Homo sapiens: one gene and its partners. The protein of the gene in region 6 purifies or fractionates together with the protein of the main gene of each other region. This does not show direct contact. Each region holds a gene or a part of one and is shown on either strand. Other genes may lie near its edges.

Region 1 (3,500 bases), on a different chromosome or scaffold from region 6:
TAGAAGTTTGTCAGTTTTACTGATTTTTTTTTCAGAAAAGCAAATTTTTGTGTTATTAATTTTTCCCTATAGTTTTTCTATTTCAAATTCATTGATTTCAGCTCTTTATTATTCCCTTCCTTCTGCTTGCTTTGGGTTTATTTTGGTCTTCTTTTCTAGATCCTTGATGTAGAAATTTAGGTTATTGACTTAAGACCTTCCTTTATTTCCAATGTAAACATTTAGTGTTAGAAATTTCTCTCTCAGAATTGCTTTATCTACATGGTACATATTTCAATATGTTGTGTTTTCATTTGCATTCAGTTCTACGCATTTTTAAAAAAATTCCTTTTGAGATTTCCTCTTTGATCCACGGATTATTTAGAACAGTGTTGTTTAATTTCCACGTGTTTAGATACTTTTCTGCTACAGATTTCTAGTTTCATTGCATTGTAGTCAGAGAATATACTCTGTATGATTTCAATTATTTTAAATTTGTTTAGGTTTGTTTTACGGCCAAGCACATTATCTATCTTGGTGAATGTTCTGTAGGTGCCAAAAAAAAGTGTGTTCTGCTGTTGTTGGGTGGAGTTTTCTATACAAAGAGATATAATTTAAAACCACTATGGAAAAACCAATATAAAATCGTAAAAATATTCAACTGGATCCTGTTAATTGACTGTCTTTTTCAGATCTTCCCTATATTTACTGATGTTCTGTCTAGTAGATTTATCAATTTCTGAGAGGGGGTATTGAATTTCCCAACTATAATTGTGGATTTGTCTCTTTCTTCTTTTAGCTTGATCAGTTTTTGTTCATGAATTTTGAGACATAGTTGTTTGGTGTGTACCCATTAAGGATCATTGTATCCTCCTGCTGGATTGATCCATTTATCATTAGGTAATGTCTCTGTTTATCTCTTTTAACTTTCTTTGCTCTGAAGACTATTTTATCAGATATTAATGAAGCTTCTCCAGATTTTTGAAAAATTAATACTTATGTGGTACATCTTTTTCTATATTTTTACTTGCAATCTTCCTATGTCATCAAATTTAATGTGAGTTTCTTGTGAATAGCATATAGAGTAGTTCCCCCTTATTCCAGGGAGATATATTCCAAGACCCCCAGTGGATGCCTGAAACCATGGATAGTACTGAACTCTATGTATACTATATATATTTTTCCCCCATACACACAAACCTATGATAAAGTTTAATTTATAAATTAGGCACAGTAAGAGATTAACAATGATAACTACTAATAAATAGAACAATTATACCAATGTACTGGAGTAAAAATTATGTGATTGTGTTCACACACTCACACTCTTTCTCACAAAATATCTTATTATACTGTACTATGGGTAACTGAAACCTCAGAAAGTAAAACCACAGATAAAAGGGGACTACTGTAGTGGTATTCGCATTCAATATAATTATTTAATGTAATTATTGATATATTATTCTTGTTTGCTATTTTATTATTTGTTTTTTGTTTGTTCCCTTTAGTTCTTATTCTTCTGTTTCCCTTTTCTTGCTTTTCTGATAGTTACTTGAGCATTTTTTATGATTCCATCTTGACTTATTCATAGTGTTTTAAAATATATATCTTTGTAGAGTTTTCCCAGTGGTTTCTCTGGGTATTCAACATTCATGTGTGAGTCATAACAGTCTACTCATATCAATATTTTACCACTTTGATTGAAGTGTATAAACCTCACTTCCATTTAGTTTCCTTTACCTTCCCCACTTTTAAATATCATTGTCTAGAGTATAAAATGGTGTTATAATTTTGCTTCAATTATCAAATATGATTTATAGAACTCATGAGTTAAAAGATAGTCTACTTTATGTACTTACATTTCTGCTCTTTCTGTTGTCCTTTCATCCTTCCTGATTGCTCTTTATCATTTATTCTCTGTTTGAAGAAATCCCTTTAGCTATTTTTTAACAGTATGTCTGCTAGCAACAAATCTTTTTGTTTTCCTTCAACTGAGAATTTAATTATTTCCCCTTAATTCCTGAAGGATAGTTTCACCAGATATGGATTCTATTTTCTGTCATCTCTGCTCTTCTATTGAGTCCATCAGCCAGTTTTTCATTTTTGTTATTTTATTTTACAGTTCTATAATTTATATTTGTTTTTTGGGGGGAGGGGACAAACAAGCCAGTTTTATTCAAAAAATAATTCCAAGGGGGAAAAAAGAAAACTGAGAAAGAGCCTATAGATTGTAAGGGTCTTTAGAAAAATAGTAGATAATTGCAAAGTATGTATTTTTTAAATTCTTGTTTTTAACTTAATTTTTATTTTAATTAATTAACAAATAATTATTGCATATATTTATGGGATACAATGTGATATTTTAATATATGCATACACTGTGGAATAATTACATCGAGCTAATTAACATATCCATCACCTCACGTAATTTATCCTTTTTTTTGTTTTTTGTTCTGTTTTGTTTTGTTTTCAGACAGGGTCTCACTCTGTCACCCAGGTTGGAGTGCAGTAGTGTGATCTCGGCTCACGGCAACCTCTGCCTCCCAGGCTTAAGCAATTCTCCCATCTCAGCATCCCGAGTAGCTAGGACCACAGGCACATGCCACCATGCCCAGCTAATTTTGTGTGTGTGTGTGTGTGTGTATTTTTGGTAGAAATAGGGTTTCACCACGTGGCCCAGGCTCTTCTCGAAATCCTGAGCTCAAGTGATCCACCTTCCTTGGCCTCCCAAAGTGGCGGGATTACAGGCATGAGCCACCACATCTGGCCTACCTATCTTTTGTTTCGTTTTGTTTTTTTCATAGCAGGAACATTTAAAATCTATTATTTTTTTGAATACTTTTTTGGGGAACAGGTGATGTTTGGTTACGTGGATAAGTTCATTAGTGGTGATTTCTGAGATTTTGGTGCCCCCATTACCCGAACAGTGTACACTGTACCCAATGTGTAGACTAAAATCTTATGCTTTTAGCAGTTTTGAAATGCACATACATTATTATCAACTATGGTGAGCATGCTGCAAAATAGGTCTTAAAAACTTATTCCTCTTGTCTAACTGGAACTTTGTACCCTTTGGTCAACTTCTCCCCATTTCCCACTCCCTCCAAGCCACAGTCCCTGGTAACCATTCTACTCTAATTCTGAGTTCAACTCTTTTAGATCTCACATATAAGTGAGATTATGTGGTGTTTGTCTTTCTGTGTCTGGCTTGCTTCACTTAGCATAATGTCCCCCAGGTTCATTCATGCTGTAGCAAATGACAGAATTTCCTTCTTTCTTATATTTTTATAACTTCTTTTTCTTTTCTGCAAGTTTCCTTTTTTTTCTTTATTTGTTTTAAGATAATGTTAATTGATTGTTGAGGCATTTTTATGATGGCTACTTTGAAATCCTTGTCAGATAATTCCAACATCGAACTCATCTTAATGTTGGCAGTAGTTGCCTTTTCTCAGTCAAGTTGTGATTTACTTGATTCTTGGTATGACAGATGATTTTTGATTGAACATTTTGTCTACTATGTT
Region 2 (2,280 bases), on a different chromosome or scaffold from region 6:
CCATTTACCTTTGTTGAATTACTGGTAAATTTTTTACGAAATTGTTTATAAATATCTGACAACTAAAATTACTTATTTATAAGCTGTTAGCAGTCCTTATTACATAAAGAAACAGCAGTGTCTGTCTTAGAAGTTCCCACATTTTAAGTTTATCATCATATGCTTTCCCTTTTGACAGCAGTAGGTTTGACCTTGAGTTATTTGTTTTAAGCTTGTTTATCTCAATTATTATATGAATGTTGTAGAAACTAGTGGTAAGCTCAGATTCAAATAGCTACATGGAATTTGATGGTTACTAAATAAGTAGATTAGTGTTTGCTTGTGAGTGTGATTGATTAGGAATAGTGTTAATGTTGTGATATAGAATTTGAGTAGTCACCAATTTGGGCTGTAGAATTTGGTGGGGGTAGTATTATCTAAAGGCAGAACTTTTTGAATCATAGTGCTTAAACAGTAAGGTATAATATAAAGTGGCATGTTAGAAGTGATATTTTCCTTTTGCTTGTTATTTAGTAAATACTTAATGAGCACTTCCTCTTTCTCCAGGTGTGATGGGTGCAGTGGTGGCTCCTCTGACAATATTAGGGGGTCCTCTTCTCATCAGAGCTGCATGGTACACAGCTGGCATTGTGGGAGGCCTCTCCACTGTGGCCATGTGTGCGCCCAGTGAAAAGTTTCTGAACATGGGTGCACCCCTGGGAGTGGGCCTGGGTCTCGTCTTTGTGTCCTCATTGGGTAAGCTGCTGTGTTTTAACACTTAATTCTTGGTGCATAGTTTCCTGTAACCTGAAATACTCCAATATCCTAATTGATTGAGTCATTTATTTTAAAAGTTTTTTTAAAGATTTATGCTAATTTGACTGGATTTTACTACCTGACATCATATAAAAATCATGGCAACATGGTCAACCATTATTACTGGCTTTACCAAACACATCTAAAATGGGAAAGTTGGTCTGGAGAACATGAATATTGCTCTGATGCAAGAACCTTCCTGTGAAATGGGCAAGTGGCTCATTGGAGGAATGAGTATCATGGATTTTGAACTAATGCAAATAAGATTAGACAGTACATGTACCCAGATGTCGTCTTACCTACACAGTATACCAAGGAGATTTTTTTTTAAGTAATATAAATCATAAACTCAGTTATCGGAAATCCTTTTTTAAAAAAAATCTTGTTTTCGCATTTTGATTTCAGGATCTATGTTTCTTCCACCTACCACCGTGGCTGGTGCCACTCTTTACTCAGTGGCAATGTACGGTGGATTAGTTCTTTTCAGCATGTTCCTTCTGTATGATACCCAGAAAGTAATCAAGCGTGCAGAAGTATCACCAATGTATGGAGTTCAAAAATATGATCCCATTAACTCGTAAGTAATGCTTTTTATTTAACACTGTTACTCTGTCACATAAGGATGCTTGTGTGTATTTGACCTGTTTTGGTTTATGGCTGTATTAGTTTTCTAGGGATACTGTTAACAAAGTATCGCAGACTGGGTGGCTTAAAACAAAACTTGATTCTCTTGTAGTTCTGGAGGCCAGAAATCTAAAATCAAGGTGTTAGCAGAGTTGTACTTCTGAGGGCCCTGAGGGAAAATCTGTTCCCTGCCTCTCAGCTTCTTGTTACTGCTGGCAGTCCTTGACATTCCTTGGCTTGTAGATGGATCATTCCAGTCTCTGTCTCCATCTTCACATGGTGCTCTTCCTGTGTACCAGGGATTAGGATTTCATTATATTTTGTTGGGGGGCAGAGGAGGGTCACAGCTCAAACCACACCAATGGCTTTGTCAGATTTCCTGTTTTACTTCTGTTGCAGTTTTGTCTGTTCTCTCTTTAGTAAACTATCCAAAAAAACCTCTTGATTTTATTGCAACTTAGTGTAATACTTAGGTATTCATTCCATTATCAGAATATTTTGTCTATTTTTGTGAGCCAGTGTCAGGGTGCAATAAATAATGTGCTCTTACTGCTCAGTTAATTTTTTTGGTAGTGTATTTTGCAGACTTTAAAACTGAAGAAATGTATTAATCAAGTATTATTTATTGGAAAATGTATATAATTGACATGGAATTTTTAATAGAAAAGCCTATTTTATACTTCTAGAAATTAGAAACTCTTCAGTATAAAGAGTCTAGTTTCAGAGATATGCAACTTTAGTTGGTATTAATTGTTATTATGTTTTTTTCTTTTTTCTTGGAGTCGACCAAAGTGGGTTATTTTATTTAAACAATTTTCTTGAGTTTCATTGTGTCTGTCACATTTTTTTAAAGTAATTTGA
Region 3 (3,500 bases), on a different chromosome or scaffold from region 6:
AGGATTGCTTGAGGCCAGGAATGGGAGACCATCCTGAACAACATAGTGAGACCCCCATCTGGACAAAAAATTAATAAATTAGCCAGACATGGTGGCACATTCCTATAGTCCGAGCTACTTGAGTTCAAGGTTATAATGAGTTATGATTTGCACCACTGCACTCTGGCTTGAGTGACAGAGTGAGACCCTGTCTCTAAAAAAAAATAAATAAATAAAAATAAAATATGTATATATATACATATTTTATTTTACTTTTTTTATATGTGTATATATATACACATATGTATATAAGTTTTGAAGTATCTTCGAGTATAAAATTGCCTAGGAACATTAGATAAATAATGATTTATATGATTTATATGTTTTTTAGTATTACATAGAGTAAAGACATTTCAAAGACTTGTCATTAGTAGCTTCGGAGCCTAAAGTCTAGGGAGTTTCTGAATTTATTTTCCATATGTTATGGAGCACCCACTCAGTTGACATTTCTTAGTGGAGAGTCCCTACTCCATTTATACTCCATTAAACTCCATTTATACTGCCTCACTTTTAAATGGATGCCCTATTTCTTCTACCTGGGAGTTTACTTACTGTTTTTACCTAAAGTCATTTGTGATCATTTGGCAATAAATTAATTCTAGATTAATTAAAACAGGCCATCCCTTTTATATTGAACATGCACATACAAGTGAATGTTGTTTTTCCCCTTTTGCAAATCGGAAAAAAGGCCTGAAGATTAGCACTAGGATTAGGAATTCCAGGATAGCTGTTCTGTCTGCCTCGGAGGCATTGGGGCTGACCTCATCTCCCTGACCATGTCTCCTATGCCCCCAAGCTGACCGTCCTTTCCGAGGAGAGAGCGGCGCTGCTGGAGCTGTGGGAGCTGCGCAGGCAGCAGTACGAGCAGTGCATGGACCTGCAGCTCTTCTACCGGGACACTGAGCAGGTGGACAACTGGATGAGCAAGCAGGAGGTAATCTGTGAGCAAAGCCTTGCCAGTGGTGGGAGAAGAAGGGCCTGTGTTTTGCCTCCTCGGGTAGTGTGCTTGTTTTGTTTTAGGACATCAGTACCATGTTAGTTCTGAATCCATTGAAGAGGGGGAATTGAGCAAGCTTCTCTCAGCTCTGCCAGCATCTCTCCCTGCTGAGATTGCAAGGCCTTCAGAAAAGGCCCCAGCTTTTCAGATTAGTGTGATGTAAAATGTTTTATTAAAGAGATTTTTTTCTTAGAACTTAGCATTGCTGGGTGCAGTGGCTCCCTGCTGTAATCCCAGCACTTTGGGAGGCTGAGATGGGAGTATCCCTTGAGCCCAGGAGCTCAAGGCTGCAGCAAGCTATGATCGTACCACCGCACTCTAGCCTGTGCAACAGACCGAGATCCTGTCTCACAAAAAAAAAAAAAACAAACAAAAAAAACAAACCTTAGCATTATGTAACATCTGAATCTAATAGAAGCAACAAAAACTATGTAAGAGAAGTTTCAATAGAATGTGGAATAGGATTTCATGATATGGCTGGATTGATTTTAAGAAAATCCAAAAGGACTTTAGACTTCCTAGAAGAGATCTTAGAAGTTTAGCAGCCATAAAATCTCTTTCCTTCTTTTTATATTTTGGCCAAAATACCCTTTGCTTCACAGTCTTAGAAGATCAAAGGAATAGGACATTATTCTGAACACTTTGTTTCCTTTGGCAAGGCGTTCCTGTTGAATGAAGACTTGGGAGATTCCTTGGATAGTGTGGAAGCGCTTCTTAAGAAGCACGAAGACTTTGAGAAATCCCTTAGTGCCCAGGAGGAAAAGATTACAGTAAGACCCCTTCTTGTCAGTGCTTTCAAATGACCCTTATAGTAAGCCAGAGTCTTTTTCCCTGGAAGGATTCCAAACAGATTTGATGAAAGATTCATATGCAGAGTACTCCTGTGGGTGCTTAAACTTTCACAAGGATGACATGCTATCTCGTTGAAGACATAATACAACTTTATGGAAAAATGATTTACTTAATGGAAACCTCCAAACTTCTTTAAGTTTGTACCCTTCATTAAAAGTAGGTCAGGGTTAATATTAAGAGGTACTCTTCCCATTGAAAATACATCTTAGAAATAAGAATTTGGAAAGCTGTTAACCTGTGTTTGACCCCTGCCAGGAGATCGTGCCACAACTAATGTCTCCAGTCTTGAATGGAGGTAGTGCAGTCTTATGATATCTGACTGGTGACATCAAGCAAAATCTCAAAAGTTATGAGAAAAAATGTCATCACCAACCTTTGGGTGAAAACCTTGACCTATGTTAAAGTTTGGTGTGTTTTATGATCTGTTCAGCAGTTACTTTTCTCCAGAGGCCAAGCTTGGGACTAGTGTGCTTACCAATGAAGAACTCTTATCTTCCTTCCTAGGCATTAGATGAATTTGCAACCAAGCTAATTCAGAACAACCACTATGCAATGGAAGATGTGGCCACTCGCCGAGATGCTGTAAGTTTGTAGGTTCTTCATGCTCCTCCTTTTTGGTACATGAATGTCTCTTCTAAGATGTTCCAGTTAAGTCTCTTCAACTGGATATCCCTTTGGGAGTGAACACTAGAGACTCACAGGGGATCCTTGTCTTTCAGCTGTTGAGCCGCCGCAATGCCCTTCACGAGAGAGCCATGCGTCGCCGGGCCCAGCTAGCCGATTCTTTCCATCTGCAGCAGTTTTTCCGTGATTCTGATGAGCTCAAGAGTTGGGTCAATGAGAAGATGAAAACTGCCACAGATGAAGCTTATAAAGTAATGTACTGTTAGTGTTGCCATGTAGCACTCGATTAGTAAGCTAAACACAGCTCTCACAAATAAATTGTAGCTAAAGGACGAAATAAGGGATTCCAGAAACCCCACTACTTAATGTAAGCCAACTGTTTTATACATTCCTCCATAAAGATAAGTATGAAGGTAGTGCAAGGGAACTTGACGTTCTCAGGTTCAAGATAGAAAGAACCCCCTTCTTTTATTCACAGGATCCATCCAACCTACAAGGAAAAGTACAGAAGCATCAGGCTTTTGAGGCTGAGCTCTCAGCAAACCAGAGCCGAATTGATGCCTTGGAGAAAGCTGGCCAAAAGCTGATTGATGTCAACCACTATGCCAAGGATGAAGTGGCAGCTCGTATGAATGAGGTGATCAGTTTGTGGAAGAAACTGCTAGAGGCCACTGAACTGAAAGGTAAGAGATGTTCCATTGAATTGTGACATGCATGTTTGGGGAACTAAATACCCCTTTCTATTAAGTATTTTAGGGACATATACCCCCCAAGAAAGGTGAGGTGGATGACTTTGGCGTTAGGGATAATTTCCTGTGTAGGAATTACTTGGCTTAAGTTCTTGATAATAATTTGGTAAATGTGGTCGAGCATACTGGTTGGTGAGGGAGTCTGAGTGAGAAGGAACTGAATTGGGCCTCATTGCTGAAAATCAAAGTTCAGCTGAGAGCCAAGGGCATTTACTAATTCTCCAGTGTCCTTATATCTC
Region 4 (3,500 bases), on a different chromosome or scaffold from region 6:
GACGAGGGTGTCCCACGTGTTCATGTGAAGTATGTCTAAGGACCCTGGGAAGAGGTGGACTGTATCTGAATCAGGATATAGAGTTTTCTGTAGTTATTATTTTTTGCGTTCTCAAGTAATTCAAAGCAGTTATGTACTTGCATAAAATAAGATCACTCACGGTCACTAGTGAATGTGTAGTCAAGACTGTTTTCCATTTGCTGGCAGCAGAGGGGACAGACAGCTACCCATTCTGCTATCAGCCCTAGCAGATAGTCACAGAGAGTCTGCCTGGGCCAAAGCTCCCCTAGGTTACTTGGTTGGTTTCCCCATAGATTCGATGTAGCATTGGTTAAAAACACACAGACACACAGACACACACACATGCACACACACACACACCCCACTCAATGATGCGCAGTTGCCTAATGGTTCTTCAGAGGTAGTGTGGATTCTCCTGATCTAACTTGCAGGCTCAGCGTAAGCGGGGCTGGCCTGGTGGAAGAGGTGTTATCTGCTCAAGGAGACCAGAGCGTTTGCTTTTGTAGCATGATTCCCGCTGGAGAGTCCCTGGAGATGTTGGAAAGGGGAAGAGAACTCTGTTCTTAGCCACAAGCGCACCATAACCCAGTCTCTTCACCCGGCCTGGCCTCAGTTTCCAGGTGTGCAAACAGTGAGGGCCACTGTCCCAGCTCTTGTCTGGGACAATACCAAGTTTCTTCATGAAATTCCCTTGTAGGACACAGGTCTCACACTGCAGAAAGCCAGTGAAGGAGGCAGAAGTCCTGCAGGGCCCAGATGGCCAGAGGGTCCCCCTTTTCGGAGCTGGTCCCGGGGCCCCAGGCCTGGCCTGAGTTATCTTATCTATACCACTGTAGAGGAGTGATGTGTGTGTAGCAGCCTGGTCTGCACCCAGCTACCAGACCACCCCACTGCAAAGCTGCCTGTGGGGTTCGTATCACTTCCATTCTCAAAGCCTCCTCTGCTCCAAAGCCATGGCCTTGCTCTAGACTGTCCTGGCTCCTGCATGGACAAGCCCTGGTCATATTCCTTGCCCACCCTTTAAGGCCCAACTCTTACCTCCATTTGCTCTTCGTGGAGAGTCCTTGCCTCAGCCAGGCTGGGTGACTCTACCCATGGCTGTGCCTTCCTGGAACATCCTTGATCACCCCTACCTCCTTGAAGTCCCCCATAAGCCACCAGAGTAGAAACCCCTCATTTTCCTGCTGAAGGGGCATGCACCACCTTGCTCATGCCTGGGGGGTGATGGGCCTGCGTGCCTTCCCAATTAGCCGGCGGGGTCTCGGGGGTTGGGGGGAGATGTTTCTGATTTGTTGTCCTCACGTGCCCCAGAGCAGTGCCTCCTGGAACAAGAGGCTCAGTCCGTCAACACCAGCTCGGTGACGATTTCAGAAAAGTCTCTCCTGGACGCCCGTCTCCGCTGCTGGCCACAGTCGCTGGTCTTGGTGGGGCACGATTAACTGCTGGCTCATTGAGTACCTACTATGTGCAGCTGTAGCTGTATAGCTGTATAGCTGTAGCTACACAAAGTTACAGAAGACTTGGTGGGGGGTGCGGGGCCTGGTAGGAATGAGGTGGAGGGGCAAGAAACCTGAACAACGTGATGGTACAAAAGCCATTCCAGAATAGAGATGTGCAGTGTGGGGCCAGGAGAAGGTGGGAGAATCAGAAGGGCAGAGGGCATCAGTTGGGAAGAGTCTGTGGTTGGAGACTGCAAACATGTGGAAGGGAGTTTGGAGGGACACTGGCCAGGTGCCTGAACACGTGGCATTCTCTGGAAGGAACTAACCAGCGTGAGGACATGCTGATTGCATACTCAGCCACCACCCATGAAGGCTCTAAACCTGAGTACCTGTAATTCCGGCTTCACCCTCAGCTTGCAGAGTGAGCTCAGGGAGACCATTTGGATGTGGCTAAATACCCCAGGCTGCTTGCTGCAGCACGGTCGTTGTCAAGGATACTTGGTTGATGAATAAAACATCCCAGAAACGAGAGGTGCATCTCCGAGAAAGTCCTGCAATTGACAAGAGGAGCCCCAGTACCATCTGGGCTGTGAGTGACAGAGGAGTCCCTTTGCAGGCCATAGGCTGGCAGGGATGGAGGGCTGGACAGGTGCTTGCCCACCGCCGGCCACGGGAAAGTTCTCTCCCTGTCACTGCAACGTGCGACAGGGCCGCTAAAAAGGTGACCCCTGTACGAAGGAATGAATGAGATAAAACAGAGCAAGCGCTGGGAAAAAGGGAATGAAAGCTGACGTTCACTGCTTTTTGTTCTCCCTTGGGTCTCTGTGGTCCAGGAAAATGCAACATGAACCTCGATTGTTCTGTGGACCATTCCTCCCTCTATGAAAATTTACATAATTCTTGATGTCAAATTTCAAATAACACAGAAGTTTATAGAGTAAAAACTACAAGTCTCCTTTTGTTCCCTCCTCCTACCTTCCCAGCCCCAAGTTTTATACTTACTGCAGGTCTTTTTCTATGCCTTCGTGCACATGTATTTACATATAAAAATACACAAATGTAATTTTTGTGTTTCTTTCTGCATAGCTGGGGTTGTGCTGTGTGTGCGTGTGTCTGGGGTTGTGCTGTGTGTGTGTGTGTGTCTGGGGTTGTGCTGTGTGTGCGTGTGTCTGGGGTTGTGCTGTGTGTGCGTGTGTCTGGGGTTGTGCTGTGTGTGTGTGTGTCTGGGGTTGTGCTGTGTGTGCGTGTGTCTGGGGTTGTGCTGTGTGTGTGTGTGTGTCTGGGGTTGTGCTGTGTGTGCGTGTGTCTGGGGTTGTGCTCTGTGTGTGTGTGTGTCTGGGGTTGTGCTGTGTGTGCGTGTCTGGGGTTGTGCTGTGTGTGCGTTTCTGGGGTTGTGCTGTGTGTGCGTGTGTCTGCGTATTGTCTTTCACTGAACAGCATGTCGTAACTCTCCCTGTGCATGAAGGGAGGCCTCCCTCTCACAGCTGTATTATATTCCAGATGGCGGAGACACCAGGCTTTACTGAGTCGTGCCTTTGTTGAAAGACATTTACGTTGTCTCCAGTGTTTGCTCGTAAATAAATACTGCTTTAAAAAACATCTTGTGTACATTTGGAGACACATGAATATTTTGAGGAGAGAAACGTATGAATTTGTATCATCATAGAACTGGAAAGAAACGTCTTTTGTTCTGCACCCCCTCCCCTTCCTTCCCCCTGGAATCTTTTATGCAGAAACCTTAGAACCTAAGTGTCAGAAGTGGGTCTCATTCCCCTGCCTGCCCTGGCATGGGCACTGAGGCCCTAGAGACGCAGGCAGTGGGCAGGTTTGATTCACACCCAGACATGTTTCTTAGACCCTGGCCTCAAGCGGGAATGGAATTGCTGGTTGATTCCAGCAGAGGGTGACTGGTCTAAGTGGATGTCTCCTTCAGGCCCTGTGGCTATCGGCCTTCCCAACTTCCCAGCGTAAACAGACCCCGCACAGGCTGAGAGGCATTAAGAATGTATACAAGGACCCGAGGGCTGGCCCATCCAG
Region 5 (3,500 bases), on a different chromosome or scaffold from region 6:
GCCAGCTGCCCACTCCAAGTCAGGAGTGTCAGGTCCCCCCCAGAGAAGGACAGACAGCCATCACCTTCTCCTGCATAAGGTCCTGGCACATGACAGAGGCCACAGGTGTGGGCTCCCCAGCCTTACTGTCTGTCACATGCTCTGCAGACAGGGGGCCTCAGGGAGCCTGGATGGCAGCCTTCAAAAGGGGCTGGGGATAGAGATGCACCAGTGATAAGCCACAGAAACTGAGAAATGAAATCACTGCCATTCCCCACATGAGTGCTCATTAGCAAATCAGTCTCAGCTTGACCTCTAGTCCCCTGAGTCCCAAGACAATTGGGGCTCTGACAGACCCTCTAGGACCCCCCCTCATACCCATGTCCTCATGAGATCCTCAGAGTTACTTTCAGATACTAACCCACTTGTTCTGGGAGACCTCTTTCCACCCAGGCTGGAGAAAGCCAGGACAGGGGTAAAGCATGGCTCAGAGGGTGAAGGCGGAAGCTGCTGTTCCCACCCTCCACTGACACCAGAAAGCCCCAGCTGCTTCCCTAGCCTCCACACTTGGTGCCCACTCAGGAATGTACATTTGTGACAGGTTCGTTTATGTCCACAGCAACACATTCCCATGAGGAGGCCACTCCTGGCCAACCAGCCCTCATCTCCAATGGGAGCACAGCCGGCCTTCCCTGATTCACCTGAAGTTGAGGTACAGCTGAGCTCTCTGGGGGCTGCAGGTCAGCAGGTTCTACCCCAACGGCCCAAGACTTTTCCCTCTGTGCGGTCCTCAGGCTCTGGCCTGCCCAGTGCTCTGTGGATGCTCCCTGGCACAAGGGGCCTTGTAGTAGGGGTTCTTCTTCCCATTCCTTCCTATCCCCCAAATGAACACAGCCAAAGCAGGTGCTGGGACCTTGTGAAGGAGGCAGGTGGCCCAGGAGTTTTGCGGATCCCGGCTCTGAGTTCTGGAGGTGTGAGTTCAGGGGGAAGAATGTGGGTCTCAGGATGTGGAAAGGGCTAGAAAAGCCTGAAGAGCCCCATGGGAGGAGCATTCTAATTTAGAGAGCTGGTACAGCCTGGAGCACAGTTGACATTCATTGCTACTCAAATCCCTTCTTCAAGCTTTTAGAGTTGTAACTATGATAAAACCCACAGGGGACCCCTTACCCTACAAAATACAAGTCCTAAAAGCCAACCTCCTGGGCCTTGCCCTGCCCTCTGTCATCTTCCTACAACAGAAACACCACAGGACAGAGGTCATCTGGGACTGAGTTCTCAATTCACAGGGCTCAAGGGAGTGTCAGACTCCGTGACAAGAGAGATCTCCAGAGTTCATCTTGTTCATCCTCCACCTCTAGGCAGGAAGGGAACAAGAAAACCAACCCAACAGCCTTGTAAATGAGTTGAGGAAGAGCTGGGTTTGCAAATGGTGCCATCGGGGCAACACAGAGCCTGGCCTGGCCGATGTCGCACGAAACACGTGTGGTCTGAGCCGACTCCAAAGGAATCGTAACAGGAGGGTGGGAGCAAAGGAACTCGGGTATCTGCCAAATCAAAGGAAACTGATACTGTGCATTAAACACCAGCCTGGCCTTTTTCAGACTGGCTGGAGAGACAGCCCCAGGCCTGTGCAGAGTTTCTGGCCTCCTCCTTTCTACTCTCGGCCCTGAACTTGCCTGTAACTTGAAAGGGCTAATTAAAGCCAAAAGAAAAATCAAAAGCTTGTTATCTTGCTCCATTACTCCCCGTCCCGGCATTAGCCTGTCTTGCAAAGCTGTTTTCCCTCTATTCTCTCCAAGGCTACCACACGGTGTTAGGACCTGCAGCTCTGCAGACTTCCATGATGAACTTGGCTTTTTGTATTGTGGCAGGAAGCAACGGCAGCACGAACACTTGCCCATGGGCAGCCAGACGGACGCCTGCAGCTGATTTTTCTCCCAAGAGCATCGCCCAAAAAGTCAGGGTTTTAAGAAAGTTTTCTACAGGAAACTGTCAGAGATTGCCAACTCCTCTGGTCTCAAAAGAACTTGTTGTTGTTTAGTAAGTGCACAGTATAAACTTGCCGTCTTCTAACATAGGCCTGCATATGTGTGCATGCTCGTGGGGAATTTATTACATGTATGCATGTATGGGTGTCCTGCAGGCAAGGGGGATTCTCTTCAATTGGTGGCTCTGTTACTCACTCCTAAGATGTGTGACCTTGGGCAATTCATTCAGCTTGCTGAGTCTTGAGATACTCAATGCAAAATGAATTTTTAGGCCAAGGCTCTCTAAAGGCCTTCTCAACACCAACATTCTAATACATCTCACCACAGACCCATGTTTGAGTGTCTAATAGACATGTCCAGAACAGCCTCTGTCATTAGCTGCCTTCGTTTGGAAGCAGTCCATACCCCCGTAAGTTCACAGACCTGTCTCATGGACTCTCTTAAGTGGCTCCACTACTGCCCCAAACAAAGGGCTCCAGGGGCATTCCCAAAGGTTGTCACCTGCTAGGAAGACTCAGTAGATAAAGTGGAGTCCCCTCCATTCTCCAGTCTGGCTCTGATTTGTCAACTTTTTGCTGCCCTGCTTGGTCCATAGCACCTCTCCTATTTCCTTTGTGACATCAGGGAACTCCTGGATTTTCAAGACCTCCAAGAAGAGACGACATCTCTTAGTTTCAGCTGGCCCAGTGCCTGGAAGACTTGACAGTGGAAAACAGCTTAAGCCTAATGCCAGGGCACCATCTTTCTCCTCCCTCTTCCCTATCTCCAACCCAAATCCCAAAGACCAGAGTGATGGCCTCTCCACACTCTGGCTGGGGAGGGTGCCAGTCCCCACTGAGATCTGCCTGGCACATAGTTATACTTTATGAAAGGAAATTTACACTTTTTTAAACAACCAAAATACATTTCCTAATATGGAACTCCACCAAAGTTTAAGGAGTCAAGAATCACATCAGTATGGATGCGTACTTCTGTCCAATGGATACATTTTCCTTTCTTCTTCTCCCCAAATTAAAATTAGAGAATTGATGTTCTCAGACTAGGTTCATAATCTTTAAAATGCACAGTTATAAAAGGAAAAGGACAAGAACACTGAAGATGCTGATAGCTGAGCCTTCCAAGTCACCCAAAGAATGATAGTGAAAAAGCAGGACCATTGTGAAGAGGAACAGAGTCAAGCCACAAGAAGGGGGATGCTTTTCATGGTGGGGCACACGTGAGCTAGGCTGTGACAGGCAGGAGTCTGTGTCCCCTGCTTCACCTGGGGTAACCCAGCAAGGCCATACCCACCAGCCATGCGAAGACCCCTAAGCCAACCCTTCTCCTGCTCTCCCTCTGGCTCCCCACAGCTCTCCCATCATCCCATGCTGCTCTCCGGCTGCTTCCTGACTTTCTCACATGTCTCTTCCAAGGCACTGTGCACACAGAAGATGCTCAATAAACACAATTTGTCCCTTCCCATCCCTTTTCTAAGTTAGCTTTGCTTTCTCTATGTGTTCACTGCACTCTTACCTGACTGTGCTCTCATTTTAG
Region 6 (2,629 bases):
GAGTGTGAGGATGGCTTTCTCTGGTTCCTGAGGCATGGACCGAGTCCTAGCCTGCATCTGAGCTCCGTTGTGCTAGCTTTGTGGTGTCTGGGTCGGGGAAGTTACTGTTAGAAAGTTGCCGTCAGCGGGCGTTGTTCCAGCTTTCCATGGAAATTCTGGGAGCTGCTCCTAGTTTGCGGCGGAGCCTTCCTTCCTTCCCTGCATTGGGCGCTGGACCTTCACGGCCAGGAGGCTCCAAGGCCCAGGCTTTTCGCCAACAGCAACAGGCTACTGGCTGGGCCCAGGCAAGGGGGCCTTGGCAGGAAAAGTTCCTTGCTGTACCTCCACTGCACTCAGAGGCCAGTGAGGGGGGTACCAGACAGGACTCCTTCCTCCCTGGTGAAGTGCCCTTGCAGCTCCCTAGTGTCCACGCCATGGATATTTCCTCCACAGAAGTACAATGCTGATTATGATCTGTCAGCTCGGCAAGGGGCAGACACCCTGGCCTTCATGTCTCTCCTGGAGGAGAAGTTGCTCCCGGTGCTGGTGAGTGTGCCCAGACCTCCCAGCATCCATGGCCAGCCGGGGAGGGTTCGGGAACACACAGACCCACACACAGGCTCAGGAAAGCATGGGGGTCAGAAGCCCACCTTGAATCAGACAGGTGCACTGGCTCAGACCTACCTGTTTCTTCCTGCCCACCCAATCCAGGTACATACTTTTTGGATAGACACCAAGAACTACGTGGAAGTGACCCGGAAGTGGTATGCAGAGGCTATGCCCTTTCCCCTCAACTTCTTCCTGCCTGGCCGCATGCAGCGGCAGTACATGGAACGGCTACAGCTGCTGACTGGGGAGCACAGGCCTGAGGACGAGGAAGAGCTGGAGAAGGAGGTAGCTCTGAGACCGGGGGCTATTGTATGAGATGAGCCCCAAGGATGCTGGCCAGGAATGGGAGTGCTTAGGTGGGGAGGTGGCACTGTTCCCACAGCTGCAAGCCTACCTGTGTCGCCCCTACAGCTGTACCGAGAGGCTCGGGAGTGTCTGACCCTGCTCTCTCAGCGCCTGGGCTCTCAAAAGTTCTTCTTTGGAGATGCGTGAGTCTGACTCCAAGAGGGTAATGGGTGGCTTGGAAGAAGATACAGGTTCAGATGGAGCAGCTGGAGCTGGGGCTGGGGCTGGGGCTGGCTCAGGCTCTGGATAGGAGGTCCCTGGGATAGAAACTGGCCCTAGTGACAGTGTGACTGTGTGGGGGCCAGAGCCTTCTCAGAGGTACAAAAGGGTAGGGTGGGAGGGCAGCCAGGCACAGGAGGGGCCTGAAGAGCTGTGGGGCACTGAATGTGCCCTTTATGCAGCCCTGGGATAGAGCCCTATTCAGGGCCAGGCTGGCGCCACCTGGGGATCTCTCCCCATACCAGGTCTAGAACTGTGTGTCCTGTCCTTCCCTGGTGGCCGCCTGCTGCCCAGAGCCCACCTCCCAAGGCTGACTCTTCCTCCAGCTCCATCTTTACCCCTTCTACCCCAGTGGTTCTCCTCCATCCCACCCTTCTCTCTCTGCTCCAGCCCTGCCTCCTTGGACGCCTTCGTCTTCAGCTACTTGGCCCTGCTGCTGCAGGCAAAGCTGCCCAGTGGGAAGCTGCAGGTCCACCTGCGTGGGCTGCACAACCTCTGTGCCTATTGTACCCACATTCTCAGTCTCTACTTCCCCTGGGATGGAGGTAAGGGGCAGATGGGAGGGGCAGCCCTGGGGAGAGTGGGCAGGGATCCAAGAACTAGTTCTCCTAACACACCTTCCTTCCTTGACCCTCAGCTGAGGTACCACCGCAACGCCAGACACCAGCAGGCCCAGAGACTGAGGAGGAGCCATACCGGCGCCGGAACCAGATCCTATCTGTGCTGGCAGGACTGGCAGCCATGGTGGGCTACGCCTTGCTCAGCGGCATTGTCTCCATCCAGCGGGCAACGCCTGCTCGGGCCCCAGGCACCCGGACCCTGGGCATGGCTGAGGAGGATGAAGAGGAATGATTTGTCCTCACGCTCCCAAGACTGGTTTTTCTACTCTCATGCATTCCAGAGGCCCCCGTGCCTCCTCGTTGTTGGTACAGCCGGACACGGGGTGCTGCCACCCAGAATAAAGCCACTCACACTGACTGGGCTCAAACATTTTCTCCTTTAAGAGCTGCCATTTTTCCTGGCTGGTGCCATAGGAATCATCTGGGTGCCTGGGCACACCCGCTGCTGCTTTAAGGCTTCCGCCCTGATGCTGACACTGCTGCTCCACGGGCCCAGTTCTGCATCTCCAGGAAAGACAAACAGTCTCCAGTTTTGGGCCCAGCTTTCCTAGTCTCTTCTTTTCCTTACCCTCAGCCCTGATCTTGTGTTTGTACGGACAGTGAGCTCACCCTAGGCCTGGACCCAGGCCCAGTTTCCAAAGCAAGCAGCACACAGCGCATGTTCACATAAGCATGGGGGCTGGGGGGACACTGGGGCTTACTGATCTTTTTCTAGGGGCCTCCAGCCCCTGGCACCACCTAGAGGGGAAAGTGAGTCACCCAAACCATTGCCCCTGGGCTTACGTCGCTGTAAGCTCACACTGGCCCTGCTGTGCCCTCTTTAGTCACAGACAGCGTGTGAGCTGACTCTGTCCCTT
Region 7 (3,500 bases), on a different chromosome or scaffold from region 6:
CCCTATTTCTTTTCTTTTTATAACTTAAAGTTTTATTTTAGATTCAGGAGGAATATGTGCAGGTTTGTTACGTGGGTGTATCACATGATGGCGAGATTTGGGGTACAAATGATTCCATCACCCAGGTAGTGAGCATAATACTCAACAGTTAGTGTTTCAACTCTTCTCCCCAACCTCCCTCTTCCCTCTATTAGTCCCCAGTGTATGTTGCTGCCATCTTTATGTTCATGTGTACCCAATGTTTAGCTCCCACTTATAAGTGAGAATATGCAGTGTTTGGTTTTCTGCTTCTGCATTAATTCACTCAGGATAATGGCCTCCAGTTGCATCCATGTCACTGCAAAGGACATTATCTTGTTCTTTTTTATGGCTGTGTAGTATTCCATGATGTATATGTACCACATTTTCTTTATCCAATTGACCACTGATGGGCACTTAAGTTGATTTAGTATTTTTGCTATTGTGAATAATGCTGCAATGAATATACGAGTGCCATGTGTCTTTTTGGTACAATGATTTATTTACTTTTGAATATATACTCAGTAACGGGATTGCAGAGTCAAATGGTAGTTCTGTTTTAAGTTCTCTGAGAAATCTCCAAACTGCTTTCCATAGGCTAGACTAATTTACATCCCCACCAACTGTATATAGGCATTCCCTTTTCTCTGCAGCAGCTCCAGAATGTGGTTGTGTTTTTTTTGACTTTCTGATAATAGCCATTCTGACTGGTGTGAGATGATAGCATATTGTGGTTTTGATTTGCATTTCTCTGATGATTAGTGATGTTGAGCATTTTTTCGTATGTTTGTTGGCCACTTGTATGTCTTCTTTTGAGAAGTGTCTGTTCATGTCTTTTGCCCACTTCTTAATGGGGTTCTTTTTTGTTTTTTGAAATATAATTTTTACAGATTCTGTATATTAGTAATATGTTGAATACATAGTTGGTGAATATTTTCTCCCATTCTTTAGATTCTCTGTTTACTCTGTTGATAGTTCATTTTCCTGTGCTCCAGCTCTTTAGTTTAATTAGGTCCCACTTGTCAATTTTTGTTTTTGTTGCAATTCCTTTTGAGAACTTAGTTATAACTTTTTTCTCAAGGCCAATTTTTTCTCAATGTCAAGAATGATATTTTCTAGGTTTTCTTATAGGATTTTTATAGTGTGAGGTCTTATATCGAAATTTTTAATCCATCTTGAGTTAATTTTTGTCTATAGTATTAGATAGTGCTCCAGTTTCATTCTTCTGCATATGACCTACTAGCTATCCCAGCACCATTTATTGAATAGGGAATCCTTTCCCCATTATTTATTTTTGTTGATTTTGTTGAAGATCAGCTGGCTGTAAGTGTACAGCTTTATTGCTGGGTTCTCTATTCTGTTTCATTTTTGTATCTGTTTTTTGTACCAGTACCATGCTGTTTTGTCTACTGTAGCCTTACTGTATAGTTTGAAGTCAAGTAATGTGATGCTTCCAGCTTTGTTCTTTTTGTTTAGAATTGCTTTGGCTATTCAGGCTCCATTTTGGTTCCATATGAATTTTAGAACAGTTTTTTCTAATTCTGTAAAAAATGACATTGGTAGTTTGATAGGAATAGTATTGAATGTATACATTGCTTTGGGTAGTATGGCCATTTTAACAATATTGATTCTTCCAATTCTTGAGCATGGAATGTTTCCCCATTTGTTTCTGTCATCTATGATTTCTTTCAGCAGTGTTTTGTAGTTCTCCTTGTGGAAGTCTTTCACTTCTTTGGTTAAATGTATTCCTAGGTATTTTATTTTTTGTGTAGCTATTGTAAATGGGATTGCATTCTTGATTTGTCTCTCAGATTGAATGCTATTGCTGCATAGATATGCTACTGAGTTTTGTACCTTTATTTTATATCCTGAAACTTTATTGAAGTCGTTTATCAGTCCCAGGAGGCTTTTGGTGGAGTCTTTGAGTTTTCTAGGTATAAGATTATATCGTCAGTGAAGAGAGACCATTTGGCTTCTTATTTTGCTATTTGGATGCCTTTTATTTCTTTCTCTTGCCTGATTGCTCTGGCAAGGACTTCCAGTACTATGTTGAATAGGAGTGGTGAGAGTGGGCGTCCTTGTCTTGTTCCAGTTCCAGTTCTAGTTCTAGCATTCAAGGAGATGCTTCCAGCTTTTGCCTGTTTAGTGTGATGTTGGCTGTGGGTTTGGCATAGATGGCTCTTATTATTTTGAGGTATGTTCCTTCAATGCCTAGTTTGTTCAGAGTTTTTATCATGAAGGAAGGTTGGATTTTATCAAAGTCTTTTCCTCCCAAACCCCTATTTCCAGATAAAGTTACATTCGTGGATACTGAGCATTAGGATTTCAACATTTGGTTTTGGAGGACACAATTCAACCTACAATATATCCAATAACAAAACGAATGACAGCAGTGCATTGCCTATATATTCCTAGGTTCAAAGTCAGCAGAAAGAAGAGTATGTCTCTCTCCTAACCACTCAGGCAAAACCATGACCTGTCATTCACTGGCCCTAATGTGCTCATCCCTGAGCAGTCACCGTGACCAGAGGGATATGACACCGTGTTTGTCAGACATAAGTGCCCTGCCCAACACTGGAGCACCTAGGCCAAGCATGTAGGAAATGTAGGCTTTCCAGAAGAACATTAGAAATCATTACTAAAGAGTAATGGATACCGGATGGCCAAATAGTTCTTATACATCAAGACAATTTAAAATACGTCCAAGATAATATGATTAATAAAGTATAAATAAAGTAGATATAGCATAGACATGTGGTTACTCTTTACCCATGATGTATTATTTTTCTTTTATGTTTTGTTGAATCCCAGTTTTATTGAGGTATGATTGACTTACATTAATGTGCACATATGTAAAGTGTAAACTTGATGAGTTTTAACATATATGAAACCATTACCACATTCAAGATAATAACTATCTCTATCACCTGCAAAAGTTTTCTTACATCCTCTTGTAATCCACCCTCCCCTGCCCTGCCCATTCCTAGGAAGCTTAATCTGTTTTCTGTCCCTATAGATTAGTTTGCATTTTTAAGAATTTTATATAAATGGAATTATAAGTAGGTATTATTTTGCATCTAGGTTTTCTACTCAGCCTAGTTATTTTTGGTTCTATCCAAGTTGTTGTGTGTATAAATAGCTCATTCATTTTTATTGCTCAGTAGTATTCTATTGTATGGCTATACCACAGTTGGTTTGTTCATTCACGGTTTGTTTATCCATGGACATTTGGGTCATTTTCAGGTTTTAGATATTATAAAGAAAGATCTCAATTGGGAAACGCTTACTTAAAATTAGAATGTATTTTATTTAATTATGAATAAATTATGTGTAAGTGTAACGTTCGTTGCAATATTTATCTAAAATGCTGATAAAATTTTTTCCTTTTTCCTTTCCAGATACTGAGGAGAGCAGACAAAAATGGTAAGACCAAAAATCTACAGTATCTATTTATTAATCTCTTACATTTTATATTACCTTAT

Evidence for each region.
Region 1: the proteins of MTX1 (region 6) and VSIG1 purify together in Homo sapiens (co-immunoprecipitation; one large-scale study listed by IntAct). This does not show direct contact.
Region 2: the proteins of MTX1 (region 6) and GHITM purify together in Homo sapiens (affinity purification with mass spectrometry; 2 studies listed by BioGRID and IntAct, with this or other methods). This does not show direct contact.
Region 3: the proteins of MTX1 (region 6) and SPTAN1 fractionate together in Homo sapiens (co-fractionation; one large-scale study listed by BioGRID). This does not show direct contact.
Region 4: the proteins of MTX1 (region 6) and ACKR3 purify together in Homo sapiens (co-immunoprecipitation; one large-scale study listed by IntAct). This does not show direct contact.
Region 5: the proteins of MTX1 (region 6) and PLXNA4 fractionate together in Homo sapiens (co-fractionation; one large-scale study listed by BioGRID). This does not show direct contact.
Region 7: the proteins of MTX1 (region 6) and NECAB1 fractionate together in Homo sapiens (co-fractionation; one large-scale study listed by BioGRID). This does not show direct contact.

The regions. Positions count from the first base shown.
Region 1 is NC_000023.11:108,051,565-108,055,064, reverse strand, and holds part of VSIG1 (V-set and immunoglobulin domain-containing protein 1 isoform 2 precursor), read right to left. Parts: intron 1-3,500.
Region 2 is NC_000010.11:84,149,509-84,151,788, forward strand, and holds part of GHITM (growth hormone-inducible transmembrane protein), read left to right. Parts: intron 1-546; coding exon 547-735; intron 736-1,200; coding exon 1,201-1,372; intron 1,373-2,280. UniProt on the Homo sapiens protein: Plays an important role in maintenance of mitochondrial morphology and in mediating either calcium or potassium/proton antiport. Mediates proton-dependent calcium efflux from mitochondrion.
Region 3 is NC_000009.12:128,580,087-128,583,586, forward strand, and holds part of SPTAN1 (spectrin alpha chain, non-erythrocytic 1), read left to right. Parts: intron 1-835; coding exon 836-973; intron 974-1,695; coding exon 1,696-1,806; intron 1,807-2,392; coding exon 2,393-2,470; intron 2,471-2,607; coding exon 2,608-2,763; intron 2,764-2,990; coding exon 2,991-3,195; intron 3,196-3,500. UniProt on the Homo sapiens protein: Fodrin, which seems to be involved in secretion, interacts with calmodulin in a calcium-dependent manner and is thus candidate for the calcium-dependent movement of the cytoskeleton at the membrane.
Region 4 is NC_000002.12:236,572,825-236,576,324, forward strand, and holds part of ACKR3 (atypical chemokine receptor 3), read left to right. Parts: intron 1-3,500. UniProt on the Homo sapiens protein: Atypical chemokine receptor that controls chemokine levels and localization via high-affinity chemokine binding that is uncoupled from classic ligand-driven signal transduction cascades, resulting instead in chemokine sequestration, degradation, or transcytosis.
Region 5 is NC_000007.14:132,503,471-132,506,970, forward strand, and holds part of PLXNA4 (plexin-A4 isoform 1 precursor), read right to left. Parts: intron 1-3,500. UniProt on the Homo sapiens protein: Coreceptor for SEMA3A. Necessary for signaling by class 3 semaphorins and subsequent remodeling of the cytoskeleton. Plays a role in axon guidance in the developing nervous system. Class 3 semaphorins bind to a complex composed of a neuropilin and a plexin.
Region 6 is NC_000001.11:155,211,695-155,214,323, forward strand, and holds the end of MTX1 (metaxin-1), read left to right. Parts: intron 1-432; coding exon 433-525; intron 526-690; coding exon 691-873; intron 874-999; coding exon 1,000-1,076; intron 1,077-1,542; coding exon 1,543-1,697; intron 1,698-1,789; coding exon 1,790-2,004; 3' UTR 2,005-2,129; downstream 2,130-2,629. UniProt on the Homo sapiens protein: Involved in transport of proteins into the mitochondrion. Essential for embryonic development.
Region 7 is NC_000008.11:90,798,275-90,801,774, forward strand, and holds part of NECAB1 (N-terminal EF-hand calcium-binding protein 1), read left to right. Parts: intron 1-3,416; coding exon 3,417-3,441; intron 3,442-3,500.